4 linked regions of the Homo sapiens genome follow. The protein of the gene in region 1 purifies or fractionates together with the protein of each later gene. This does not show direct contact. Each region holds a gene or a part of one and is shown on either strand. Other genes may lie near its edges. The genes, in order: NR2C2, GLUD1, MKI67 and SUCLG2.

The links.
Region 2: the proteins of NR2C2 (region 1) and GLUD1 purify together in Homo sapiens (affinity purification with mass spectrometry; 2 studies listed by BioGRID, with this or other methods). This does not show direct contact.
Region 3: the proteins of NR2C2 (region 1) and MKI67 purify together in Homo sapiens (affinity purification with mass spectrometry; 2 studies listed by BioGRID and IntAct, with this or other methods). This does not show direct contact.
Region 4: the proteins of NR2C2 (region 1) and SUCLG2 purify together in Homo sapiens (affinity purification with mass spectrometry; 2 studies listed by BioGRID). This does not show direct contact.

Annotation. Positions count from the first base shown.
Region 1 is NC_000003.12:14,942,751-14,950,602, forward strand, and holds the start of NR2C2 (nuclear receptor subfamily 2 group C member 2), read left to right. Parts: upstream 1-4,832; 5' UTR 4,833-5,156; intron 5,157-5,262; exon of another isoform or gene 5,263-5,691; intron 5,692-5,881; exon of another isoform or gene 5,882-6,974; intron 6,975-7,852. UniProt on the Homo sapiens protein: Orphan nuclear receptor that can act as a repressor or activator of transcription.
Region 2 is NC_000010.11:87,084,831-87,091,855, forward strand, and holds part of GLUD1 (glutamate dehydrogenase 1, mitochondrial isoform a precursor), read right to left. Parts: intron 6,794-7,025; exon of another isoform or gene 4,732-6,793; intron 1-4,731. UniProt on the Homo sapiens protein: Mitochondrial glutamate dehydrogenase that catalyzes the conversion of L-glutamate into alpha-ketoglutarate. Plays a key role in glutamine anaplerosis by producing alpha-ketoglutarate, an important intermediate in the tricarboxylic acid cycle.
Region 3 is NC_000010.11:128,102,415-128,109,439, forward strand, and holds part of MKI67 (proliferation marker protein Ki-67), read right to left. Parts: intron 7,010-7,025; coding exon 165-7,009; intron 1-164. UniProt on the Homo sapiens protein: Protein that associates with the surface of mitotic chromosomes and acts both as a chromosome repellent during early mitosis and chromosome attractant during late mitosis.
Region 4 is NC_000003.12:67,644,594-67,651,618, forward strand, and holds part of SUCLG2 (succinate--CoA ligase [GDP-forming] subunit beta, mitochondrial isoform 2 precursor), read right to left. Parts: intron 1-7,025. UniProt on the Homo sapiens protein: GTP-specific succinyl-CoA synthetase functions in the citric acid cycle (TCA), coupling the hydrolysis of succinyl-CoA to the synthesis of GTP and thus represents the only step of substrate-level phosphorylation in the TCA.

The sequences.
Region 1 (7,852 bases):
GGGGGTGGGGATAGGTGGCTAACAGCAATTACGTGAGGTTTAAAAGTTTATTTTACAACCATGTAATTGTACAAATGATATAAACAGAAGTCAGATAAAATTATTAGTACATATATAGTACTAAAGCATAAACTATTACAGAAAATTTGATACAAAGTTGTACATAAGTACTTGTAAAGGCAATTAAGCTTCCCCAGTCTATGGGAATACAAAAGTTGCCAGCAATTAATTTACATTACAAAAAAGGAAAACCATTATTTATGCTATCACAAAAGCAATACCCTTAAAAGTAAAAACAATCTCCACTTGATATTAGTAATTTGAAAAACTTAGCATATCTACAACTACTGCTTAATCAACACTTTTCATTGATTCAACATTATCACTTAAATGCAGATGCAAAATAACCTTGCATGGCAAACATGTTTACTCTGTGCTAATGAAACTATGAAACAGTTCCTCCAAGTTCACAGACAAGTCAATCAATGATTGACTACAGAACAGACTGGTGAGTGTTACAAAAAAAAAAAGACCTGCCCAGGGGACCACTAGGGGTGGAGGAAGAACACCTGGGTCTCACTCACTGGGCACTTGATGCTTTCATTTTTATCTGTAAGCCAGGGGACAATTATATTAATATTGTATGAATACACTGCTACTGGGAAAAGCATTCATTCAACAGATGCCCACTACATACTCTGTACCAGGTAGTGTGTTAAGTGCTGAAACAGGGAAGGACAAGGCACATCCTACGGGGGCTCGCAGTGTGGGCAGGTGCTGAGCTAACGCACACACACAAGGGCTGGGTACTGCCAGATCTGTATCACTCCGGAGCAACGACCTGTCTCTCTGAATGATCTCTGGCATGGTAAAAGAGTTAACTGTATTTCAAAAGGTGAAACAAAACTTTTTTTGCTTTGTTATGCATGTTTCAAATTGATCAGTGGTTCAGGCCTGGAGTATGCATCAGAATTATCTGTGAAGCTTAGTGAAAGTGCTGATGCCAGAGCCCACCCAAAGCTTACTGCTTCAGAACCACTGGGGACCTGGCAGTTCTGATGTGCACGACTAGTCAAGAATCCTTTAAAGGCTGATAAAGCAATCTTGAAATCACTGTCAATGCAAAAGTGGATGTTCCTCATTAATAAGAACTCAAAAAATAAAGTACAGCTAGTATAAGACTTGTTTTTTGTGCCTATAAAACCCAAGTGTTAGCTACTTTCTAACTATAAAATTCTATCCAAAAAGACTTGCAGTCAAAACACCGAGCCAAAAAACAAAAAAGGCACCAAAGCAGTGCCGACTTCAATGTGCAAAGGCCTTTTACGTGCTGATATTGTAAGCAATCTGTGTGCATGTGTACATATGCATCTGTTTTCAGGGAAAGAAAAGCTGTTAAAGCCAATTAAGGTTATGAATTCTTGCTACTACTTTAATATTAAACCTTTAAGTGAAAATTTATTGAACACTATTACAAATGTGGCAAACTGACATAGCTGGTTTACTGCACAAACTTTAATGTCAAAGGGATTAGATCAGAGCTCCAGTCTCACTTACTGGGCCTATAACATTGTGCAGGGCACTTATCTCACCTCAGGAAAATGGAAGTAACTGCTTCATTTTACAGAGGTATTAAATGAAAGAAATGAGAAAACTATAAACCAACATTGAAGCCTGAATTATTGCTTAGTATTTAAAGTCTAGTACAATTGCAATGTTTTTAATAAAAAAACTCATTGATAGGTGTATTTTTACAGTGTATCTAAAAGCAGCATTTAACATTAAAAACTTAGTATTTAAAAGAGTACACAACCAGGCAGGGTGTGGTGGCTCACGCCTGTAATCCTAACACTTTGGGAGGCCAAGATGGGAGGATCACTTGAGGCCAGGAGTTCGAGACCAGCCTGGTCAACACAGCGAGACCCCAACTTTTTTTTTTTTTGAGACAGTTTCGCTCATCGCCCAGGCTGGAGTGCAATGGTGTGATCTCGGCTCACTGCAACCTCTGCCTCCCGAGTTCAAATGATTCTCCTGTCGCAGCCTCATGAAGTAGCTGGAATTAGATGCCCGCCACCCCGCCTAGCTAATTTTTTTGTATTTTTAGTAGAGATGGGGTTTTACCATGTTAGTCAGGCTGGTCTTGAACTCCTGACCTCAGGTGATCCACCCACCTCACCTTCCCAAAATGCTGGGATTACAGGCATGAGCCACCATGCCCGGCCAATGCCATCTATTAAAAAAACAAAGAAAAAGAGTACACAACCACAAAGCACTGGGCCAAATGCATTGTTTCCATGTTTGCAAGGATTTACCATAGAAATATTAGGTTGATGCAAAAATTAAATTTCCAGACTGCGAATTTTAAATCATTGTAACTACGCTAAAACATATTCTATTAATCAAAACAGGAACCATTACAATCAACACATTTTTGCCAATGAGAAATGTTTGTTTATTCCTGTAGCATAAAAATCCGTGCTTCAGGATTTGACGAACTCTTGGAAAGCATTTTCTGCACCATGCTGAAGTGTTTTCCCTGCAAAAAGTTGTCAAGATGCTAGCAGAAGTGGTAGTCAGTTGGCGAAAGGTCAGGTGAATATGGTGGATGAGGCAAAACTTTGTAGCCCAATTCCTTCAACTTTTGAAGCACTGGTTGTGCGACACGCAGTCAGGTGTTGTCGTGGAGAAGAATTGGGCCCTTTCTGTTGACCAATGCAGGCAGCAGGTATTGCAGTTTTCGGTGCATCTTACCAATTTGCTGAGCATACTTCTCAGATGTAATGGTTTCACCAGGATTCAGAAAACTGTAGTGGATCAGATGGGCAGCAGACCACCGAACAGTGACCATGACCTTTTTTTTGGTGCAAGTTTGGCTTTGGGAACTGCTTTGGAGCTGCCTCTTGGTCCAACCACTGAGCTGGTTGTTGTATAAAATTCACTTTTCATTACATGTCACAATCCGATTGAGAAATGGTTTGTTGTTGCGTAGCATAAAAGAAGACTACACTTCAAAACGATAGTTTTGATTTCCGCTCAGCTCATGAGGCACCCACTTATCAAGCTTTTTCACCTTTCCAATTTGCTTCGAATGCTGAACGACCCTAATGACCGTAGAATAGTCAACGCTGAGTTCTTCTGTAATTTTTCATGTAGTTCAATGATTGCTCTCAATTGGTCGTTGTCAACTTCCCATGGCCCATATCACGTTCCTCATCTTCAAGGCTCTCTTCCTTGCAAAACTTCTTAAGCCACCACTGCACTGTATGTTTGTTAGCAGTTCCTGGGCCAAATGTGTTACTGATGTTTTGAGTTGTCTTCGCTGCTTTATGAACCATTTTGAACTCGAATAAGAAAACTGCTCCAAATTTGCTTTTTATCTAACATCATTAGACAAAAAGCATATTCTAAAATAAACAGCAATAAGTCATTAGCAAAAAAATAAAGTGAGAAATGTGCATTAAAATGATCCACATTTATTTAAGAATGTATTCCAATATCAAACAGCAAATTTCAAAAATGCAAAAACGCAATTGCTTTTGCCTCTCAGGTACATCACTTGACCTTTCTAGTTCTCACCCACTTCACCCCTAAAATCGGAAAATCTTTCTGCAAGAAAAAAATTTGACCACATTCCCTTAAGGCCTCTTCCAATTTCAAGAGCTGTGCTTTACCATGACAAAACGAACCTAGCTCTTTTCCCAATTTTGCAACGTCAGAAAAAGGAGGAAGGGGAAATAGCTGTGTTTAAAACATTTTTTACCAAATAGAAATATTATAAGATTATGGAAAAAAAAATACTAAATGTTGGAGTCATCCTGATAAAAACCCAAATGGATACTGTGTGGGAAAAAAAGTTAACCCATCCATTCTGGAGTCAATATTTATTCTTAATAAGCAAGAAAACTGAAGAAAAAAAATCAGTATAAGATCTACAGCCTGTAGCCTAAACACTTCAGGGCATTTAGGATAAATAAGCGCCTGCACCTTCCCAGGCAAGTCAAAACCACGACATAAAACAGAGAAATATGTAAGGAAAACCTACAGCCCAAGAGTTTAAGAGCAAGACAGGCCAATTTCTTCAAATAAATTTAAGCAATGCTGCTAAAAGCTGCTTTACACATCCCTATTACCATGTACTACTTCCAAATTTCGAGGAGGAGGGGCATGGAATTACACAAGATCTGGATCGTATGTTTACTAAGAAACCAAAAATTATAGGTTCTGGGGCGTTTCAACATTTCACCTGAGATGGCCAGAACGGGCGCATCTTTAGACCTTTAAAACCTAAATTAAAAACTATCAGTACCGAGGAAGGGCCGAAGAGCTCAATACCCACCCAATACAACCCCCACTTCCGACCTACAGACGCTCTGCTGAGCGGCTGGGAGAATCCGTCGCGCCAGTCAGGGCCCGGCTTCTTCCAACAACAGACACTTTGCGAGCCTTCCAGAAGCCTTGGCTAAGCGAGAAGGCAGGGTGGAGGCCGCCACTGCGAGGACGGTCCCCACCCAGCTGCGAGGAGCTCGCGGTTCCCCAGAGGGGCGGGCCTGCGTCCGGGTAACCGTGCGCGACGTCCACGAGTTTTTAGGACGACCAGCCCTTCAGCCTCTAGGCCCCGACGCCTGCGCCATTTAAGCCACATATCCGCCCGCCCGGCCGCGGCCAAGGCCGGCGGCAGCTACGTAGCCGCCGCCGCCCGGGGCCCCACAGCCCACGGGCCGGATGGACCGAGCGCCGGCTGCGGCGTTCCGGTGCGCGCGCGCGCCTCAGCCAATCGCGTTCTCGCCCGCCCCCCGCCGCGGCGGCGAGGCTGGCGCTGGGAAGAGGAAGAAGAACATTCGCCCTCCTCCTACCAGCGCGCGGGCGGCGGCGGCGGCGGCACCGGGGTCACGAACTCTGACCTTTCACTGACAAAAACAATAACAAACCCCCCCTTCTCCGCGACCCCGGCGGCGCCCCCGGGCCCGTCCCCGCCACCCCGCTCCCACCTCGGCGTCTCGTCTCTCGCCCGCTGCCCCGCGAGCCCGCGGCCCCCGGGCTCCCGCCATCCGCCGACACCGGGAGCCCGGGCTCCCCGCGCCCTGCCCTCCGCGCCGGGGGCCGCCCGCCGCAGACACGGGACCCGCTTCGAGGCCGCTTTGGCGCCAAATCCTGAGGTAAAATTGAAAGAGGGTCGGGCGGGCTCGGGCCGGCGGCGGAGGGGGCGGGCCTGGCGCGCGGACATGGAGGCGCCGCGGCGGCGGCTGAACCCGACCCTTTTACCTTTGCCACGGGGTGGCGGCGGCGGCGCCCGGCGCTTTGCATAGTGGGCCGGGCCGCTCCCCTCCCCTCCCCGCCCGCGGCCGGGCGAAGCGAGCGGGTTCCCCCTGACCGGCCCGGCCGGCGCAAGGGTGGGGGTGGAGGGGGAATGGCCGCGGCCCCGCCTTATAGTTGGCCCTCCGCCAGCGCCGCCATTTTGTTCTCGACGGAGATGGCTCCGGCTGGGCGGGCTCCCTTCCTCCTTATCCTCCTCCTCCTCCCGCCTGCAGTCCCTTCTTCCTTCTCTGCCGGGATTTTCACCCCTCCGCTTCTAGTCCGCCTTTGGCGGCCGTCGCAGCCCAACCGCCGTTTTTTCTGAAGGGGAGGGTAAAAGAAAAGGAGGAAGGCGGGTGCGAGGCGCGACCTCGTGAGCGACGGATGGGCTGGCTAATTGGCGCCCAGATAGGAGGGCCGGGGCCTGTGGCACCGCCCCCCTAAGCTTTGCTGATTGGCTGAGGCGGAAGAGGGTGGTCCTTATGGGGCGCGGGAGCCCTGGCGGGGCGGGAGTAGAGGCCGGGGCGAAGAGTGGGGCCGGGTCGGCGGGGGCGGGGCCGGGGGCGGGGCGCGAGGGGCGCGGCCGGGTGGAGAGGCCGGCGCCTGGTCTTGGGTCAGCAGGTGGGCTGCTTCCCTCCGCCTGGAACGCGTCTCGAATGAGTACTGAGGAACAATAGTAATAAAGGTGATGAAGCATTTCGAGTCCACGATGCGCTCTCGTGGGAAGAGGTTTTCGGAACCAGGACACTTTTCAGGGCTCCTGCTCGTTATTTCGCAGCGGCCTTGGCGAATCCCCTAATGAGGCTCAATTTTATCGACTGTAAATGGGGGGCATGCGCATTCTTGCCAGGCCGGACCTCCCTTCTGAGCATTGTTTGTGGGGCTCTACTCAGAAAATGGAGGCAACGCTACTTTGCGAGCTTCAGAGTCACTTGAAAATGGTGTTATTGTTAAAAATGGGATTACAGCCACCAGGAGAGGCAAGCGTTAAGGGTATTTGGGGTTTGAGAGAGCACAATTCGGGAGTGATTCTCTTCTCATTCGTTCGCTGAATACATGTTGACTTAGTTTTTTAGGCACTGGGGACACATCTGGAGAACCAGCTGTACAAGACCCCTGCCCTCACTAGAGTTGGGGGCTGGGGGGTGAATAGACAAATAATTCCAGAGAGTCATAAGTTCTGTGAAAGAAAAGAAGCCAAATGACCTGCTGAAGAAGACCTGAGGCGTTAATTTAGATGGAATGGTCAGGGTGGCCTCTCTGAGTAAGTGATGTTTGAACAGAGGAACCCAAGGGAGGAATGGCATTCCAGACAGGACATCCCGTGTAACGGCCCTGGAGGAAGAGCATTTGATGTGATCGAGAACTGGCTGCTTGTGGCTGGAGAGTTGGTTGGAACTAGTAATTGTCCATTATCCCACTTTGTTTCCAAGCCAAAGGCTGTGAAATATAGCAACGGTAGTGAGGAACAAATCTTCAATGTAATAAGAAAGTCGAGGAAAATACAGCCTTCATATGAATTACTGATGAATACATGACTTGGGAGGAGGGCCTCAGAAACTCACTTTACTTCCAGATTCAAATCCTTCGTCAGCCTCTTATATACATTTTCAGTTCATCAAGTATTTCCTGAGTGCTACGAATACTCCAGGCACTATGTGCTAGGCTGGGAATACAAAAAAGTAAGACACTGGTCCTCAAACATGTGAATATGATTTATTTATTTATTTATTTATTTTTTGAGACCAAGGTCTCACTCTGTCGCCCAGGCTGGAGTTGAATATAATTCTCTGTGTGTGAGTTCTCTCTTTCTCTCTCTCGAGATAGAGATATTTATACACATACATACACAGACATAAAATGTTTTAGTGTTGTGGTTAGCAACTCCCCAACTTTTACTAGCAGTGTGATTTTGTGTAAGCTACCTTTCCTAGCCTCACTGTCCTCATCTGGACAATAATAGAGCCTTCCTTCCTGAACTGAAGATTAGATGAGTTAATGTAAATAATAGAGCTTAGAAAAGTGCCTGACATGTAGCAAATACTGTGTAAATAGAGTTATTGTTGTCATTATGAACTACTGGTATAGACATTGGACTAATTAAGTGATATAAATAATGAAATTTTTATGCAGTGTGGTGTAGGGGCAAAAACAATAGATTCGAACACCGAGATTCTAGTTTTGGCTCTGTGCTTGCAGCTAGTTACATGGCATCCAGGACAAAAGTTTGGAAAACAAAATAATGGAACTAAATAGTACTAACCAAAGTATAGGGTGCTTTATGATTTACAGAACTCTCTTACAGGCAGTATGTTGTTCAGGCGCCACTAGAACCCACGTAATGGCAGAGGCTTCCTGTTCCATGTTTAAAAACCTTTCCAAGGCTTTTCATTATTTTCTTATCTGTGGTACCCCTAGCTTCCTGTGCTCTAGACACACTGGCCTACCTTCAACTTCCTTGACCAGTGTAGCTTACAGTGTAAGCTTACCCCCCACCCCCACCCTACCTCAGATATTGGCTCAAGCATCACTTCTTCAGGGAAGTCCTAATTCCCATTGC
Region 2 (7,025 bases), on another chromosome or scaffold:
ACTTACTCATCAGATTATATTTTTTCACTTAATATTAATGTACCTTCTAACCCACAATAATGTAGCGTAACTTAATTTAAAATGAAGAGAGGAAGGTTAGAAGCAGGGAGGAACTCTCAATGACCACCCACAAGTAATGACCACCTGAAATACTACGTCTCAGATAAAAATTCAGACATTCAGCATGGGAAGGAGCACTGCATATAGGAGCTAAGAAAAAGTACACACTTTAGGCTGGGCGTGGTGGCTCACGCGTGTAATCCCAGCACTTTGGGAGGCTGAGGTGGGCAGATCATTTGAGGTAGGAGTTCGAGACCAGCCTGGCCAACATGATGAAACCCTGTCTCTACTAAACACACAACAAAATTAGCTGGGCGTGGTGGTGCACACCTGTAATCCCAGCTACTGGGGAGGCTGAGGCAGGAGAATCGCTTAAACCTGGGAGACCGAGGTTGCAATGAGTGGAGATTGCACCATTGCACTTCAGCCTGGGCGACAGAGAGTGAGACTCCGTCTCCAAAAAAAAAAAAAAAAACCAGAAAAATTATACTTTAATTGCTTTAGCAGCATCAATGTACTGTTTTGTATAAAGTAGGCAAATACCATCTTAGATTTTTAATCCAGTCTAAATCTTTTATTTTAACCTGAATAAATTTTGAAGAGGTAACTAAGCTTTCTGGGAAGCAAATGTTTAGCTGATATTAGAAAAATATAACCTATTGACACATCAAAGAAAAAACGGAAGAATACTTTTTTCATTAAAAATTTAAAATTATAACACATATGTATGTATTTCTATCAAAATTTAAATACAAAAAGAAAGCTGAAGACTCCCTTGACTTCCACTTATGACCCCAGTCTTCTCCTTAGGGGTGACTATTCTTAGCAATGTAAGTGTATATCCTTCCAAATCATGTTCCCTGCAATTATATATGTACATATCCATAAAACATACAGCTTTGTTTTGTGTTATTTAACTTACAGCCTGACAGATGGAAGATTATACATTAAAAGGGGGATTTTGTTAATTTTTCTTGGTAGATTCTTTTATTCTGATCTTGATTAACAGTAACTTAGCTGCACTTTCACACCAAACAGGTCTTGGAATCGGAAATGATGCTAGTTAAAATGGTGAATATAAAGTTGGATTTAGTAAAAGGTAACAATAACTTGTTATTAAAAAGTTTCAAAGGGATAAAGGCTTGAAACCTCAGCTATCCAGTTTCATATAAATTATTTACAAGTCTACGTGATAATTTGAGATGGGTCTTAAGAGAGGCAGAGGAATCCTAGGGAGGGGGAAGTGAGGCATGGACAGGCAGAGGGACTGCACTATTCAAGGGCATGATGGAGAGAAGTACGTGCCTGGATTTCCAATTTCCCTAAGGATAATTTTACACCAGATCTTCTTTATTTTAAAAATCCAATCCTTTTCCTTAATAACCCCATCTGTCCCTGATACCACCATTTTTTTCTACCAGTCTCTCAGGCTAGAAATTTTGTGGTTATCTTTGCCTCTTCTCTCCTTCATCCTGTAAATCCTACCTGTTGGGAATACATTACTGTCCTTTCTTCAAAATGTTTTATCTGTCTTTTCTTTTTCATTCTCTGCTATTAACTATAACTTCATTCTCAGTTCCACTGCTGCCTAGCTTTCTGTGCCCTGCTAGATTCATCATTATTCATCCAACAAACATAAAAGGAAAAAATTGGCCTGGCGCGGTGGCTCACGCCTGTAATCCCAGCACTTTGGGAGGCCGAGGCGGGCGGATCATGAGGTCAGGAGATCAAGACCATCCTGGCTAACATGGTGAAACCCCGTCTCCACTAAAAATACAAAAAAAAAAAAAAATTAGCCAGCGTGGCGGTGGGCGCCTGTAGTCCCAGCTACTCAGGAGGCTGAGGCAGGAGAATGGCATCAACCCAGGAGGCGGAGCTTGCAGTAAGCCAAGATCGCGCCACTGCACTCCAGCCTGGGAGACAGCGAGACTCCGTCTCAAAGAAAAAAAAAAAAAAAAAAAGGAAAAAATTGTTTTTTCTCACACATTTCTGACACCAAATGTGTGGGTTTTCCACACTAAGCAGTTCTCCAGTTCTCTGCAGATACAAACTGGGTGTCCTGCAATTCAGTTATGACACTGACTACCAGGGTTAGCACAGACCCCACAGCTCAAGGGCTCAGTCGCACAAGACTGTTCCCTACTTCAGATGCCAGTTCCAAGTCTTGGGTGCCCAGGGCACCCACACTTCTGTCCAACTTGGCTACCAACCAGGGGGTTCCCATGGCCCCCTCCTCAGGTTCAATAATGTTATAAAGGCTCACAGGACTCAGGGAAACGTTACTTATGTAAAGGATACAAATCAACAGCAACATGAAGAGGTACACAGGGCCATGTCTGGAATGTCCCCACTGCAGGAGCTTCTGTTCCCCTGGAATTTGGAGGGTACCACCCTACCCATACATGGATGCATTCACCAACCTGGAAGCTCTCTGAACTCTCCCCATACTCCAGCCATCAGTTAGGGTTTGTATAGAGGTTCCATTATGAGGGCATGACTGATTGCTGATTAAACTCAATCTTCAGCCCCTTTCCAATCTCCAGAGGTCAAAGGGTGGGACTGAAAGTTCCAAATTTCTAATTATGGCTTGGTCTTTTTGGTGACTAGTCCCCACCTTGAAGCTACCCAGAAGCCCATTAAGAGTGTCCTAGTTAGAACAAAAGATGCTCCTATCACTCAGGAATTTGCGACATTCAGGAGCTCTGTGTTGGGAACCAGGCAAAGAGACCAAATATATTTACTGTCACAAGCCCTTATTTCTCATTATTTACAAATGTAGTTTGTCCTCATGACCCCCTTACACACAGTTCCACTTCCTGCCTTGGGTGAAGCCACCCCCTCTTTATCTGAAATGGCCTTATCCAACTCCTATCCAGCCTTCTCTGTTCCCACATCAAGACTGTCTGTCTGCCAGGCACGGTGGCTCACGCCTGTAATCCCAGCACTTTAGGAGGCCGAGGTGGGCTGATCACATGAGGTCGGGAGTTCGAGACCAGCCTGACCAACATGGCAAAACCCTGTCTCTACTAAATATACAAAAATCAGCTAGGTGAGGTGGTGCATGCCTGTAATCCCAGCTACTTGGTAGGCTGAGGCAGGAAAATTGCTTGAACCTGGTAAGCAGAGGTTGTAGTGAGCCAAGATCGCGCCACTGTATGCCAGCCTGGGCAACAAGAGCAAAACTCTGTTTCAAAAAAAAAACAAACAAAAAAACAAATAAACAAACAAGATTGTCCTTGGTTTCCTTGAACTCCTACTGCAACAACACATGATTTACTTTGTTTTGTTTTTTTTTTTGTCATTTATTGACTGGTTCTAGGAAAGGAAAATGTAGAAATGGAATACTGAGCTTATAGCAAAACAAAAAAGACATAGGGTACAAAGGAGATTTGAATCTGCTCTACTTGGGAGAAATCAATGAAAAAAAATATTCCAAGAAATAAAAAAATTCAACTTTGTTTTTTTAAAAGAACCCTCTGCATAAAGTTCAGAGATCTTGCCTGCAGGAACAAAAAACACATAATAGAAAAATTGATTTACTTAGAATATAGACTATAGTTCATAATAAAAGCAGTCCTTATTTGGTAAACCTTCAATACGAGTACATCACCCTTGGTTATTTCTTTGCTCTTTCTCTCTTGGCATAAAAGAAAAAAAAAATTCATGCAAAATCCTACTAAGGCCCAATATGTACAAAATATCTTTTAAAAGTCCTATGTTGATATATTTGTGATAATGACAAACGATAAAAGAAGTCATACTACTGACAACCTTTGAAATTTTCATTTGTCATCTTTCACATTTTCCTCTAGCCTAGAAGCAAATCAGAAGAATTACGTCTGATAGACTTTCTCCAAGAATAATAATCAAGAGAAATAGCAATTCATAATAAACAAAGCATTTTCTTAGTTTTTAATGAAGAAAACTAAGAAAGTAATTTCAAAATTATTCAATAGAAAATCTTTAAAGATAAATGGACTACACACTGGTAGAGAAATGAGTTGTTCTGGCTAACACATTAATCTCTTAAACACCAAAGTCTTCAAACCTCTTTTGATGGAAAACTGTTTAAAATGTTATTTCAGGTCTTCGGAGTTGGGTGTAGGGGAAAAAGGTTATTTCATTTCCTTAGCAATTAGAATAAATGGACCTCTAGAGATATCATCTATGCTGAGTTTTATATGCAAAGCTGTTTGAATATGTATTTTTCTAGGAAGAAGGTAGGTCTTCTAATAGCTTTTAACAGAAATTTCAAAGGTATCTATGATCCAAAGTATTAGGAAGCATTGTGTCAATGGCATGAAGTGGTTCTCAATCAGCGCTTACAATTAAAAGCCTAAGATACAATTTGTAACTTTTTGCATAAATAAATCCCAGACAACAATGATTAAGGTGGGTGCTGGAATCAGATGCCCAGAATCTGAACCTCAACTCCACTACGTACTAGCTGTGTCACCCTGCCAAAGGACACTTCACTCCTCAACCTTAGTAGCCACATTTGGAAATCAGGGACAACAGTGTATTGCATGAGGCATAAAAGCAATGATACATGAAAAGTTCTTACATGCATTGTTGCTATAAGGCATAGAACTGATGATGCATGAAAAGTTCTTAATAAAATGCCTGGCACACACAGAGCTGAATAAATGTTAGCCTTTGCTAATATCTGACCTTGGTGAAGGCAGTTGACCTCAAGTGAAGGCAGAATGTGTGTGGCTGCAGAATCTTCTAGGTGTAGTTGCCTTTTTGTAAAGATAATCGGAAGGTCTTGAGTAGCTCCTTCTCCTAGTTTGTCTTCTTGTCCTTAATAAAGCCTTTCCTGCCTTTAACAGTAGTATTTCACATATTAACAATTCCGACTTGATAGTGAACACTTGAATCTGTATTAATTTCTGCCTCTGGAAAGGGGAAAATATTGATTCATTTGAATAACTAGTCAGTTTTAGACAGCGGCATTAGATTTAAGACTGTTCATGGTTATATTGGGGGAAGGACTTGGGGTAGAGCTGCTTCACTTTTCATTTTGTAACTTTCGTTACTATTTGATTATGTGAATCATGCATGTGTATTTTATGGGTTGCTGAGTACAAAATTTATGGGCTATTTATGAATCAATGTGCTCTAAAGTGATACTAGAGATTTTTCTCTTTATTACTTACATTGTAAAAGCCTAATTATTGGGTAAAATAAATAGAAAAGAAGAACAGTCACGTGGCAGAGACTAGTGTCTAGGATTTTTTCAACATCTACAGGTTAGTATTTTAGTTTTTAATGGTTACAGAACCCTTAGTATTTTTAACATAAGTAAATAAAAACCGATTTTCCTAAGCACTCTGAATTATTAACAGCGGTAAACCTAATTTCTTCCCACTATATGCCAAAAGTTCAGGCTCAATTTTTATTTCTTGTACTTAAACACTACAAGTTGTACTGAACTTTAATATATATTGGTGCTTAGGATCCAATTTTTGATGCCCTAATTCTTACAAAGTATACTTTGGATAATGAGTGAGCAGCTGTTTGTCTTCCTGCACGTGGGGCTTTACTGCCAAAAGCAAACTTGCTAAATGGATTCATACACGCAAGTGACAGAAAGACTGAAATCTGATGTACAGATCACTACCATTACCAAGCGTCTTCATTTTCTAGTATACTTTGGGAGAAAAGACGCATTTGGCTTCCATGAAATAAAAAGGCATAAGGGCAACACATTTCCGTATTTAAATAAGATGTATTAAAAACAACAACCTCGGGGCTAAGTGCTTTTAAAAGACACACAAATTACCTATCCTCTGACTGAACTTTCAGAAAAGTCCTAAATTAAATTCACCTACAAAGGTTATATTTTATCTGTGGCAGCAGATGCAGACACACAGCCACTTAAAAATATTAGAAACTGTGAGTTTATTAAAAGTTACCTAAGTTTTGATGGTTGTCAATTGAGCACAGCAAAATAAGTCAGAAACATTTTTTCCCCCAGTGAAGGCAGAGAAATATCTCATTTTAAATCAGTATCAGTGCTTTCTATAGTCTTCCCTTAAGCGCTAAACAATGACATCCCAGAGGCTGAGGGCGTCTTTAACACTGCATTGACTCCGGTCTTCCCTTGCATTATGTCATCAAGATTCCACTGTTTCCTTCTGGCATTTTGACTTTTAAAAACTAGTTACTGGATTAATATAGGGTACACTTTTTTGGGTACTAATATTTGTAATTAAAAGACTTAGGGTCAATGTATGAGAGAACTCCATCTACGGTCCATCAACTATATGTAAATTATGATAATTTTAGAAAATTTTATGATAGTAGCATCAGTGATAGGGAATTTTAATAGTTTTAATATCAAGACAACTGGGGGGGGGCAGACTGGAAGAGAAAGTTAATTGACTCCTACCATCAATAAATTGCTATTATCAATCTGTACTTTCCCTCCAAACTGACTTTAAAACAATAAACTTCCTTCTAAAAAGGTAGACTGGTCTCAGGCAGAACCATAGCAAATGAAATACAGATAATTTACTCTGGGAAAGTTAATAGAACAATCTTTGATAATATTTCCAAACCCACCAGAACTTTTGAACCAGTCTTCTCAAATCAGTCGCATATTCTCACACTATGCCCCTTTGCTGGAAATATTTTTAAGGCCTCACTTAAACTTCCCTTCAGATCCTTTAGCTTACCCTTTCAAATCCTTAACACAGACAAATCTAACGGCCTCAGGTACATGTAGTAACTGGGAAAAGAAAAGCACAAAAACAGTGTGTATTATTAAATATTTACTTGGAAAAAGTACACATCAGCCACCAAGTCTTATAACCATCTGTTTCCCTTAGAGATTATTGCTAGATTGTTGCTTTGCTTCAACCTCAAGAATTTTAATTTAGAAAACTCAGGGATAAGGTTGTTCTTGAGGGAAAATGAGATACAGAAAGCTGAAGGTTGGTAAAAGGGTGGAGAGAGGCAGA
Region 3 (7,025 bases), on another chromosome or scaffold:
GTCCCAAGAAGATTCTTTACCATGGCCTGCAGTTATTCAGTGTTAAAGGAAACCCTCTGGGGAAAGGATAACCACTTATAACGTCAGGTTACATGCAAAGTATAACACAGAAATTCACAACTATCCAAGACGATATTGAGTGATGCTGTAATACTTCCTCTCACCTTATTTTCAGGGACCGAGTCTTGTAATTTGTGTTCCTCTTTGTTGGTTTTCATGTCGTTGCTGTTCAGCTCTTCCGCAGGTTCAATTCTTTTTGCAGAAGTCCTCAAACTTCTCTTCATGATGACCACGGGTTCGGATGATTTGCCTCTTGCCCTGGGAGCAACCCTCTGCTTCTTGCTGGCTGGCAGCTCCTCCACAATTTCCTCTGGTGCTGGCATGCAGCGCAGCCTCTTGGTTCCCGTGACGCTTCCATCTTTGCCACCTCCCCTCTTGAAGGGCAGTGGGGGCAGGGAAGTGTTGCTTTTGCTTTGTGATTTTACAGGGTCTCTGGTGCTTACCACGTCTCCCACGGGTTCTACTTTAGGGGCCCGAAGAACTCTTCTGGATATTTTTAGAGGTTTTCCACTGTCAGGTGTTTGCTTTGGAGCGCTTGTAAAGCTATCAGCAGCACCATTTGCCAGTTCCTCAGTGTGGCCTGGTGTTTGAGAGAGCTCTTGGAAGCTGGCCAGATCTTCCAGGGGTTGGGCCTTTTCCTTAGGTGCTCTTGGCTGTCTCCTGCTGCCAATTACATCTTCTGCGTCCAGCTTCCGCTTTGCAGGTTGCTTAAATGCTTTCGTGCCTTTGCCCTCACCTACCGGCTCTTTGTCGGTGTGCGTGGTCTCCCCTGAGGTTTGTGTGAGCTTGCCAACTGCTAACAGCTCCTCCTTCACTTCTACTTTCTGGGCACGTGTCCTGGGCCGTCTCTTTGAGCTTGTTGCGGTGTCTTCTAGTTCTGGTGATGATTTGCAGGGTATTTTAGTGGTTTTGTCATCAGTCATTGATTCTTCAGTGTGACCTGCTGCTGGGTCTTTGAAGCCAGCTAGGTCTTCTATGGCTTGGGCACTTTCCCTGGGTGCTCTTGGCCGTCTCCTGCTGCCAGTTACACTTGCTGCTGGAGCCGGTGTCTGTTTTGCAGATTCCTTCAATGCTTTGATGCCTTTATCTTCACCTGCTGGTTCTTTGTCTGCATCCGTGGTTTCCCCTGATGTTTGTGTGAACTTGACTGCTGAAGGCTCTTCTTTTACTTGTACCTTCTGCACACGTGTCCTGAGATGCCTCTTTGTGCTTGCTGTGGTGTCTACCACTTCTAGTGGGGGAGATTCGCAGGGTATTTTAGTGGCTTTGCCAGCAGTCAGTGATTCCTGAGTGTGACCTGATGTTTCAGAGAGCTCTGTGAAGCCGGCCAGGTCTTCCAGGGGTTGGGCCTTTTCCTTAGGTGCTCTTGGCCTTCTCCTGCTGGGTTCCTCTTCTACTGGGTTTGGTTTCTTCTTTGCACGTTGCTTCAATACTTTGATGCCCTCATCACCGCTTGCTGGTTCTTTGTGTGTGTGTGTGCTTTGCCCTGATGTTTGCGTGAGCCTCTCAACTGCTGAGAGCTCCTCTTTTACTTCTTTCCTGGGACGTGTCTTGGGGCATCTCTTTGTGCTCGTGGCAGTGTCTGTTAGTTCTGGTGGGGGAGATTTGCAGGGAATTTTTGTGTTTTTGTCAATAGTCATTGACTCTTCAGTGTGACCTGGTGCTGAGAAGAGCTCTTTGAAGTCAACCAGGTCTTCTAGAGCACGGGCCTTTTCCTTACGAGTTCTCAGCTGCCTCCTGCTACCAGTTACACTTGCTGCTGGGTCCAGGATCTGCTTTGGAGACTCCTTAAACGCTTTGATGCTCTTACTATCTCCTGTTGGCTCTGTGTGTGTTTGCGTAGTCTCCCCTGATGTCCGTGTGAGCTTGCTGACTGCTAGGGGCTCTTCTTTCATGTCCACTTTCACCAGGGGTATCTTGAGCCTTTGCTTGGAGCTTCTTGAGGTTTTGAATGACTCTGGCTGTGGAGATTTACAGGATACTTCTGTGATTTTGTCATCAGTCATTGATTCCTCAGTGTGACCTGGTGTCTGGAAGAGTTCTTTGAAGCCAACCAGGTCCTCTAGAGCCTCAGCCTTTTCCTTAGGAGTCTGTGGCTGTCTCTTGCTGCCAGGTAAATTTCCTAGCAGGTCCAGTTTCTGCACTGGAGTTTCCACAAATGTGTTGATATTTTTCTCATCACTTACTGCTGGTTTTGGTGTGTCCATGGCTTTGCCTGCTGATGGTGTTCGTTTCCTGAGTGCTAAAAATTCTTCCTCTACGTCTGCTTTCCTGAGGTTTCTCTTGGGCCGTTGCTTTGTGCTTGCTGGGGTGTCCACTGGGTCTGGTTGTGGAGATTTGCAGGCTATTTTGGTAGTTTTCTCATCAGTCGTGGGCTTGTCAGTGCCTGGTGTCTGGAAGAGCTCTTTGAAGCCAGCCAGGTCTTCTAGAGCCTGGGCCTTTTCCTTAGGAGTTTGTGGCCATCTTTTGCTGCCAGGTAAATTTCCTGGCAGGTCCAATTTCTGCACTGGAGTTCCCATAAATGCTTTCATGTCTTTCTCATCACCTCCTGCTGGTTTGGGTGTGTCCATAGCTTTCCCTACTGATGGTGTTCGTTTCCTGAGTGCTAAGGATTCTTCCTCTACGTCTGCTTTCCTGAGACTTCTCTTGGACTGTGGCTTGAAGATTGTTGGGGTACCCACTGGGTCTGGTTGTGGAGATCTGCAGGCTATTTTGGTAGTTTTCTCATGAGTCGTGGGCTTGTCAGTGCATATTGGTGTCTGGAAGAGCTCTTTCAAGCCAGCCAAGTCTTCTAGGGGTTGGGCTTTTCCCTTAGGAGTTCTTGGCTGCCTCTTGCTACCAGTTACACTTGCTGCTGGGTCCAGTTTCTGTTTTGCAGTTTCCCTGAACACGTTGATGCCTTTATCCTCATCTCCTGGTACTTTGTCTGTGTGTGTGGTCTGTGTGAGCTGCTTCAGGGCTGAGAGCTCTTCCACTATATCCCTTTTCCCCAAAGGTGTTTTGGGCCGCCTCCTTGTGCTTGTTGGAGTGTCCATTGATTCTGGTGGTGGAGATTTGCAGGCTATTTTGGTAGTTTTGTCATCAGTTGTTGATTCCTCAGTGTGGTCTGGTGTCTGGAAGAGCTCTTTGAAGCCGGCCAGGTCTTCTAGTGATTGGGCCTCTTCCTTAGGTGTTCTTGGCCACCTCTCCATCCCAGTTCCATAGTTTGCTGGGTCCAGCATCTGCTTTGCAGATTCCTTAAACGCTTTGATGCTCTTTCCATCTCCTGCTGTCTCTCTGTGTGTCTGTGTGGTCTTCCCTGACGTCTGTGTGAGCTTGCCGACTGGTAGGACCTCTTCTTTCACACCTACTTTCCCCAAGGATATCTTGAGTCGTTGCTTGGAGCTTGTTGGGGTTTTGACTGGGTCTGGTTGTGGAGATTTGCAGGATACTTCTGTGATTTTGTCATCGGTCATTGATTCCTCAGTGTGACCTGGTGTCTGGAAGAGCTCTTTGAAGCCAGCCAGATCTTCTAGAGCCTTGGCCTTTTCTTTAGGAGTTTGTGGCCGTCTCTTGCTGCCAGGTAAATTTCCTAGCAGGTCCAGTTTCTCCACTGGAGTCCCCACAAATGTGTTGATGTCTTTCTCTTCACCTACTGCTGCTTTAGGCGTGTGCATGGCTTTGCCTGCTGATGGTGTTAGTTTCCTGAATGCTAAAAATTCTTCCTCTACGTCTGCTTTCTTGAGGCTTCTCTTGGGCCGTTGCTTTGTGTTTGTTGGGGTGTCCGCTGGGTCTGATTGCGGAGATTTGCAGAGTATTTTTTTGGTAGTTTTCTCATCAGTCGTGGGGTTATCAGTGCATGGTGTCTGGAAAAGCTCTCTGAAGCCAGTCAGTTCTTCTAGAGCCTGGGCCTTTTCCTTACGAGTTTGTAGCCGTCTATTGCTGCCAGGTAAATTTCCTGGCTGGTCCAGTTTCTGCACTGGAGTTCCCAAAAACGTGTTGATGTCTTTCTCTTCACCTACTGCTGGTTTGGGTGTGTGCATGGCTTTGCCTGCTGATGGCGTTTGTTTCCTAAATGCTAAAAATTCTTCTTCAGTGTCTGCTTTCCTGAGACTTCTCTTGGGCTGTGGCTTGGAGCTTGTTGGGGTGTCCACTAGGTCTGGCTGTGAAGCTCTGTAGGATACTTTGGTAGTTTTTTCGTTAGTCATTGATTCCTTAGTGTGACTTGGTGTCTGGAAGAGCTCGATGAAGCCGGCCAGGTCTTCAGGGACTTCAGACTTTCCCTTAGGAGTTCTCAGCTGCCTCTTGCTGCCAGTTAGACTTGCTGCTGAGTCTAAGATCTGCTTTGGAGACTCCATAAATGCTTTCATGCTCTTACCATCTCCTGTTGGCTCTGTGTGTGTGTGTGTAGTCTCTCCTGATGTCTGTGTGAGCTTGCCAACTGCTAGGAGCTCTTCTTTCACGCCCACTTTCCCCAGGGATGTCTTGAGCCGTCGCTTGGAGCTTGCTGGGTTTTTGTCTGGGTCTGGTTGTGAAGATTTGCAGGCTACTTTGGCAGTTTTATCGTTAGTCATTGATTCCTCAGTGTGACCTCGTGTCTGGAAGAGCTCTTTAAAGCCAGCCAGGTCTTCTAGAGCCTGGGCCTTTTCCTTAGGAGTTTGTAGCCGTCTCTTGCTGCCAGTTAAGTTCTCTGTCAGGTCCAGTTTCTGCACTGGAGTTCCCATAAATGCGTAGATGTTTTTCTCACCACTTACTGCTGGTTTGGGTGTGTGCATGGCTTTGCCTGCTGATGGTGTTCGTTTCCTGAGTGCGAAGAATTCTTCTTCTACGTCCACTTTCCTGAGACTTCTCTTGGACTGTGGCTTGGAGCTTGTTGGTGTGTCCACTGGGTCTGGTTGTGATCTGCAGGCTATTTTGGTAGTTTTCTCGTGAGTCGTGGGCTTGTCAGTGCATACTGGTGTCTGGAAGAGCTCTTTCAAGCCAGCCAGGTCTTCTAGGGGTTGGGCCTTTTCCTTAGTTTTTGGGTGCCTCTTGCTACCAGTTACACTTGCTGCTGGGTCCAGTTTCTGTTTTGCAGTTTCCCTAAACGCGTTGATGCTTTTATCCTCACCTCCTGGTACTTTATCTGTGTGTGTGGTTTCCCCTGATGTCTGTGTGAGCTTCTTCAGGGCTGAGAGCTCCTTCTGTACGTCCCTTTTCTCCAAAGGTGTCTTGGGCTGCCTTCTTGTGCTTGTTGGGGTGTCTGCTGATTCTGGTGGAGAAGATTCGCAGGGCATTTTAGTAGTTTTGCCAGCAGCCACTGCTTCTTCAGTATGACCAGGGGTCTGGAAGAGCTCTTTAAAGCCAGTCAGGTCTTCCAGAGCCTGGGCCTCTTCCTTAGGAGTTTGTGGCCGTCTCTTGCTGCCGGTTAAGTTCTCTGTCAGGTCCAGTTTCTGCACTGGAGTTCCCACAAATATGATGATGTCTTTCTCTTCACCTACTGATGGTTTAGGCGTGTGCATGGCTTTGCCTGCTGATGGCATTAGATTCCTGCACGCTAAGAGTTCTCCCTCTACATCTGCTTTCCTGATACTTCTCTTGGGTCGTTGCTTTGTGCTTGTTGGGGTGTCCACTGGGTCTGACTGTGGAGAGTCGCAGGGTATTTTAGTGGTTTTACCAGCAGCCACTAATTCCTCGGTGTGACCAGGAGTCTGGAAGAGCTCTTTAAAGCCAGCCAGGTCTTCTAGAGCCTGGGCCTTTTCCTTAGGAGTCTGTAGCTGTCTTTTGCTGCCAGGTAAAGTTCCTGCCAGGTCCAGTTTCTGCACTGGAGTTCCCATAAATGCTTTAATGTCTTTCTCATCACCTCCTGCTGGTTTGGGCGTAAGCATGGCTTTCCCTGCTGATGGTGTTAGTTTCCTGAGTGCTAAGAATTCTTCCTCTACATCTGCTTTCCTGAGACTTCTCTTAGGCCATTGCTTTGTGCTTGTTGGAGTGTCCACTGATTCTGGTGGTGGAGATTTGCAGGCTATTTTGGTAGTTTTCTCATCAGTCATTGATTCCTCAGAGGGACCTGGTGTCTGGAAGAGCTCTTTGAAGCCAGCCAGGTCTTCTAGTGACTGGGCCTCTTCCTTAGGCGTTCTTGGCCACTTCTTCATTCCAGTTACACGGGCTGCTGGGTCCAGGATCTGCTTTGGAGACTCCTTAAACGTTCTGATGCTCTTGCCATCTCCTGCTGGCTCTCTGTGCGTGTGCGTGGTCTCCCCTGACGTCCGTGTGAACTTGCCGACTGCTAGGAGCTCTTCTTTCACACCTACTTTCCCCAGGGATGCCTTCAACTGTTGTTTTGTGTGTGTTGGGGTGTTTATTGGTTCTGGTTGTAATGACTGGCAGGGCATTTTAGTGATTTTGCCTTTCTCACTCTTTGGTGCCTTGGCATGATCTTGGGTTTGGAGGAGATTCTGGCCACGTGCCGTGTCTTTCATGAGTTCTGTATCAGGCAAGCTCTTGAGGTCTGTCAGGTCAGACATTGGTGCACATTTCTGCCCCCAAGTTCTTGATCTCTTCATTGCTTTCATCTTTTCATCGTTTTCTTTTAATTCAATATTTTCCTTATATGTCTCAAAAGGTCTTTCTATTTCCTTCATCTCTCCTTCTCTCCTTTGTTGTAGTAGTGTTGCCTTCTGACCTCTTTTTAGGATGCACTCAACAATTTCTGTATTTGTTTCTTCACTCTTACTTTCCACAGGTAGCTTCTGTATATTCCTGAACTCTGTAGACCTTCCTGACCTGTTTGCAGTGGATACTGTTTTTGAAGGCTCTGTCTCAGTATCTGAAGTTTTTGTCTCCAGAGAAGTCATTTTGTAGGTGTTCCTGGGCGTTTTTGCTACGTTTCCATTTTCTCTAATACACTGCCGTCTTAAGGGAGGGCTTGCAGAGCATTTATCAGATGGCTGTTTTGCTGCATTCTGTGCACTGAAGAACACATTTCCTCCTGAAATAAAAACATA
Region 4 (7,025 bases), about 53 Mb from region 1:
TGTCCGAGTATGGTTAAAATGGCAAAATGATAAAAATGGCAAAAATGGTTAAAATGGTCAATTTTATGTCATGTATATTTTACTACAATAATAAATATATAATAAAAATTTTAAATTAAAGAATATACACATTCATATTTTTTAGTATCTTTAGAAGCTTTGGAAATCAAAAACAAGGTTTCAGAGACAAAAAAGGAACTTAATGATCCAAATTTTTAATCAAAAAAGCAATTCTTTTGCCACCTCCCTCAACACCCTAAAAGTCAATCAGAAAACACTGCTTTGTGTCAATAATTAATTTTACCTAAATTATGACAATGTTGCTTAACATCAAAATTCCAGGAAAAATATTCCACTGACCTGAAAAGAAGGACTCTGAAGTATGCAGGAGGAAATAGATTCATCCTGTAGCACATGACAACACATCTTCAAGAAAGGAACACTATGACTCTTGGCTTACCATAAGCGTAACATTACTGATATACTGCCAATATTAAGCAAAATGAAATACCACTACTAAATATTCTCACTTGGGGCCCTTTAACATAAAGAAAATTTAGTATTTTTCTCTCATCTTCCTATAAAGTTTAACTCTGTAAGTCTCCCCACATATTAAAATTATATTTTATACAAAATATAGTCATAAAAGCTATTTTATACTGGTCATAAAAGCCTCATCATATACTCATATCAAACAAAAAAGAAAGGATCCATTAGACACTCACAACATGCTATGCTGTGAGTTTTGGACGTGGGACTCCAATCCTAAAAGCGTCCTCAGGCCCACCCTCGCTTAGGACAAGTCACAAGCCTTCTGCCTCCATTTCCAACCATCCTATTCAACACTCAGCCATTCAGTCCTTCTGCATCATTTTAAAATTCATGAGGATAATCTGTTTACAACTTCACCATCTCAAAATTTACTTAGTTTTTCTAATGTGCCAAATAGCACGTATATTTTTTTCCATGGTAATTATAAAAAAGTTAAAAGCTGAAAAATTCCTTTTTTCCCTGTATTGTTGGCTTTCAATTTTAATGATACATCACTTTAAAAGAGCCCTGAATCTTAACAAAGAAACACTCATCATTAATAGTTTATTCCCTTAATCAAAAATAATTCATAACTCTCCACTTTCTATTACTTATTAAAGGCCCACGTAAGCCCTCAGGCTGGAATGAGAATGCCTATGAGAACTGGTTTTCCCCCTTTCTTTCAAAGGTAGGAAAGGACTTACTAACTCAAATAAGTCCTTCAAGTCCAGATGGTATAGCATAGCATCTCAACAACAGGTAAGAGAGTACAAGCAGAAGCTGGGGACAAAAAGCAAAGGATAAAAAATAGTTCCTTATAAAAATGTGAAGAGATCTCCATTGATAAGGAGAAAACCTTAATATTTTCTGGTAAAGCTATAATGCTGATCCCTACTTCTATTCAATGCTGTGGGCAAGCCAATCAATGCTGTGGGCACGGGGAAGGGAGGGGAATGGAGGGGAGGGCAGGGGAGGGGAGGGGAGGAGAGGGGAGGGGAGGGGAGAATATGGTGCCCTAAATGGATCAGGCCACTCCCCAGACACTGTACCCAGAGCCCTGAGCCCTGCTTCAGGCAGGGAGGAAAGCATGGTGCTGTTCCTCTCCACAGGCCTCCCGACTTCAGCCACAGACAATAAGATGGGGGTGGATCCCTTACTTAAAACCAGACAATATCGAAACAATAAAGTTTGGCCGGGCACGGTGGCTCACGCCTTAATCCCAGCACTTTGTGAGGCCAGGTGGGTGGACCACCTGAGGTCAGGAGTTGAAGACAAGCCTGGCCAACATGGTGAAACTCCATCTCTACTAAAAATACAAAAATTAGCTAGGTGTGGTGGTGTACACCTGTAATTCCAGCTACTTGGGAGGCTGAGTCAGGAGAATCACTTGAACCTGGAAGATGGAGGGTGCAGTGAGCCAAGATCTCACCACTGCACTCAAGCCTGGGCAAGAGAGTGAGACTCTGTCTGAAAAAATATAAATAAAAATAAATAAATTCAGCTTTCAGAGACACTGAAATGTGAAAAAGAAAAAAAAAAGGTATCTTACAAAGAAATATAAGTAATTGTCACAAGATCACAAAGCTATGGAGTGCTGAAGGCAAGAGTTAAACCCGGGCAGTCTGATTCCACTCACGGTGTACGTCTAGTATCCTGGCATAATGACTCACAGCATTGAATCGATGCCAAAGTCGCCCAAATGATCTCCATTCTTGCATTTCTCCAACCCTCTCCACACTATATCCAGAAAGAGTACTCTACGCATTAAACTGCCCTTGCCACTTCACTGTCTAAAACCCTTCAATGGCTCCCTATTGCCCTCCTCAAGAACAAGCTTAGCTTCATTACCAGGCCTACCAGGATCAGCGATCTTGTCCTTGCTCTTGTCTCTGGCCTCATTTCTCACCGTAAACTCTACAAGGCAGCCCTCCTGAACCTCCTTAGGGCTCTCAAGTCACAACTCTGGGACTAAGACAGCCCACAAATGGAAATACAGCAAGCACAGGGAGAAATGGATGGGAGCAGAAAAAAGATGCTAGTCCCCCCACTCCAACCCACAGGACCCAAACTTACACAAACCATGCCTTGTGCTTTGCCATGTCTCCATTAACAATTCATATATTATGTCAAATCCCTCGAATTTTAAAATAAAAATAAAATTCAAAGGTAAATGTTAGAAATCTATGCATTTATGGCTACTGCCTAAGTCCTATTCTTTTGGAATCATTTCTAGAAAGGGTAAAAGCTGACCATACTCAGTACACTGGTCAAAGTCTGAACCCAGAATACCAGGAAACTCCATCCTCCAACACCATCCCCCAAAGCCCACTCTGCAAAGGCAATGACATTTCACAATTTCTCCAGCATTCTTGAAACGCTGAGGGCAGTAGTTTGTGCTAAGCACACAGTGAAAGTCATGTCCAGTTGGCCGTTGGTTCATGCTGTGGCTACTGCCAATTCTTTAAGTGTTCCCTCACCTCAAATCTTTGATGCACGAGGTCCAGCAGTCGTCACTACTAAGTCAACACTGAGACATGTAAATGTTTGTGAAATGAGTAATAACCAGGATGGTACAATTAAGCTCCCCATGAGCTCCTCCCCACTGCCACCTCAGGCCTCACCAGACATTCATCCCAACTGTGGAATCCTGAAGATAATCAGAGCCCGGGAGGCAGATCTTCACCCCTCTGAGCCTCAGATTCCCCAGAAGTAAGCTGGGAACAATAACTCCTATTTCACATGGCTACTGCAAGGATGAAGTGAAATAAAATGTATGGAAGCACCAAGCCAGTGACTAATCCTGAGATGGCAGCACATGATAAATGCTTACTGAATCTGGGAAAGCAAAATTATTCTAGCTCAATAAAGCCTTTTAAAAAGACCAGCGAATTTAGCTTCAAATTCAGTGCAAGAGAAATAATCATCCTGGGCCCACCATCGGGTCATATGCCAAATGTCTTAAATATCATCTTATTTAATCTTTGTAACTATCTGTGCAAATGATCCCCTTTTCAAGTAACAGTAAATTGAGGCTCAGTCAGGTTCAATAATTTGCTCCAGGTTGCAGAGAAAGAACATGGGAGATCCCATAAGAATTTGAACTCCGTTGAATTTGAACCCAGACTTCGTGTCTTTAATCTCCCTACTACTCTGTTGACAAGACCCTGAAGCCAGAGAGAGAGGAAGGTGGATAAGAGTCCAGAAAGGGCAACCATGCCAAGTTGATCAGCACACCTTCATCAGCACAAGTCCAAATGACCAAAGGCGAGTGTCACTCAAGGGCAAAAAGATGGGGAAAGGTAAGCAATCAGTTTAACTGCCTAGTTCAGCCCAACTAGGATCTTTCAGTGACAGAGCTTAATAATTTAACAGCATAAGTCCTTTATCAGCATGAGGCGGGTGACTCCCTGGCACTGTGATTTTAAGCAAATGACTATAGGGCCTCTCTATGCCTCTGACTGCTTCTATAAAACATGGAGACTGTGAAATCTCCCCTGCAGTGATGTTGTAAGGGTTAAAGAAATAATGTGTGGAGATTACTTCACGCAGCCTTGTTATATACTACATGCCCAAGGAACAGTTCTATGATTATGAGGACCCTTTCACAACTAGGATTTCTATAGCCCCTTCCTTCTTCCTCATTTGCTGAAATGAGCCACATCATCCCTCAACTTCTCCTGTTCCTTACCTCCCTCTCCCTTCTCTGTGCACCCTACTCATTGACTGAGACCACAAATGCTTACTGAATACCAACTCCGGCCAGCTGGGGAATCACTCACGCTGTTACATTAAGCTGTATCACTTTGCCTTTGTGGAGCTTACATTCTTAAACTTGTAGGAGAGCGGGGAAGACGGCCAATGAACAAATAACACTACCAGGTACAGTCAAGTGTTATAAAGAACAAAGCAGATAAGGGTACAGAGAATAATCCCTGGAAAGGCAGGGCTGGGTAAGGTAATTAGGAAAAAGCCTATCTGAAGAATCAACGTTGAATCAGAAAGCTGATGAAGACAGAGATCAGGCAATGAATGATCAGAGGGAATAGTTCTGCAGACACAGGGTAAGTGGTTGACAGAGGCCAACAGTATCTTAGAAGGCTAAGAACACAGCTCAATTGCAGTACCCACTATGTTTTAGTATAACTACAGGTTTATAGGCCAGTTGTACCTCTGTGCCCTCTGAAGGTAGGAGCTGTGTTTCTTATTCCTGTCTGCATTCACTCAGTCATATTTATCTGCCCAACATTCTATAAAGAATGAGCTGTAATAAGCATTCAGAAAATATTTGCTACATAAATGATATTTGTTTGATTTTTCAGTTGTGGGGGTTAATTTTATTCCCTGCTGAATTCTGGGCTTTCTGAAGCCCCATTTAGACTTCTTTGTATACCCAAAAGTGCCATTGTCCCTCAACTTCTGCTATCCACCTCTCCCTTCTCCATACTAAACTGCTCACTACAACTACTCTCCCCCTGTTCTCTCACCTCTGCCTCTGCATGAATTCACCTGGACTGCCTTCTTCATCACCTCCACCTTCCTCACAAACTCTCAAGATTAATCTCCAAATTTCATTAGTGTACTGATATTATCATTTGTTCAAATATTTCCAAATCTCTCAAGTTCTTCAGTAAAACTTTTCCATCAAGTAACAGAAAGTGATGCATCAAGTGACAATTGCAGATTGAGTGGTAAAGACAGCTGAAGGACAAATGATCTGAGGTTACTTATGTAATTTCTTTTCCTCCCCCAAATATGCCATATTTCAGTGACTTTCTGGGCTTTGCGCCTGCAGAACTAGACCAGGGTACGAGGGCAGGAATGTTCTCACTACTGTGGGTCTGTGCACTCAATCACTCACCCATAAAAGAAATGCCTTATTTACAGCAAACAAAACCAATTTAGGACAAAGCTATCACTTAACGGTCTTCCCCACAAGGAAGGTCAATAGTTTAGCATCTAAATTATTTGAGATGGATTCCCTTTTCTAAAAGCAGAAATTGCAGCTGTACTTCATTTTAAAAAAAGAAAAAAGTCAAATATTTATTCTCCTAGGCAAGAGGGAGATACAGGTAAGTCACAACTTCCAATGCAGCCGCCACAGCCTCATTTAGCTGATAAGAACTTGCCCATAACCTTTAGTCCTTCACTTACAAAAGTCATGCATTCATCTTTCTCCTCCCACTTCCGTAAAGGCAGAAAATTAGGCTGGAGCCATTCTTTCTGAGTATACAACAGCAGGGGCATGGGTTTAAGCAGTTTCTTTGACAACATACATTCCTCTGTAAGTCCCTGGACAGAAGCTCTGGGCTGCACAGAAAACATACAACAAGGATTCTAAAATAGGAGGCCTGGCCAGGCACAGTGGCCCACATCTGTAATCCCAACACTTTGGGAGGCTGAAGGGGGCAGATCACTTGAGGTCAGGAGTTTGAGACAAACCTGACCAACATGGCGAAACCCCATCTCTACTAAAAATACAAAAATCAGCCAGGCATGGTGGCGTGCATCTGTGGTACCAGCTACTCAGGAAGCCGAGGCAGGAGAATCGCTTGTACCCAGGAGGAGGAGGTTGTAGTGAGCCAAGATCAGGCCACCGCACTCCAGCCTGGGTGAGAGTGAGACTCTCTTTCAAAAAAAAAGTAAAATAAAATTGGAGACCTGAAAGGCAGTGCTTCTCCTACAAGAGAGCTCCATGAACTTCCACTAGCCAAAGAGAGGGGAAATACCCTAAGAGACAACAAAACTGTGCTTAGACTTAAGAACCATTTCAAACTCAGTGCCCTCAGCCAACATTTCCCCTAAGACTTGACTGGCAGTATGTACTCATATCTTGCCCACCATGGCAGTGCCTGGCTATATTACACCACCAAGTACTGCACACACTTTTCACTTGGCTATATGGACACAGCAACATGGCCCCTGTCTACCAGGATTTAGGTCTTTGGAAAGACTTCTAACCATGGTTAGACCCTTACTGCTAAATTCACTGAACACCACTCTGCTAAAAGTTTCAAAGCCAGCCTAACTTAGATTTATAACAGGGGGCGTGTACAGTACATTAATTACATGCCTGTGCTTTGGCTGCCAGGACTGGGATTCAGCCTCTGTATGGTTTAAACCCCTGAAACCTCCTTAGCAGACCCTGCAGGTCTCCACATGATTTGGCCCTTGTCTTCCTCTCAGACCTAGTCTACTACCACTTTCCCCCTCTAATTACCTAGACATGCCCAGCTCATTCTCATCTCAGTCTTTGCACTTGCTGTCTGCTCTGCCTAACACACTCTTCCCCTTAGTCTCACCTAGCTGGCTACCTTTCATCGCTCAGGTCTCAGCTCATATGTCAAAAAGGCCATCTCCAGGATCACTTACATATAATGCTGAGCAATGTGAAGTATGTGTATGCCTACATATAATTTCACCTAAAGTACAAAACTGAACAAAACCAGCGTTATAAGTCAGGGGACTGGTGACCCTTTGTAGGGTGGAGGTAGTGA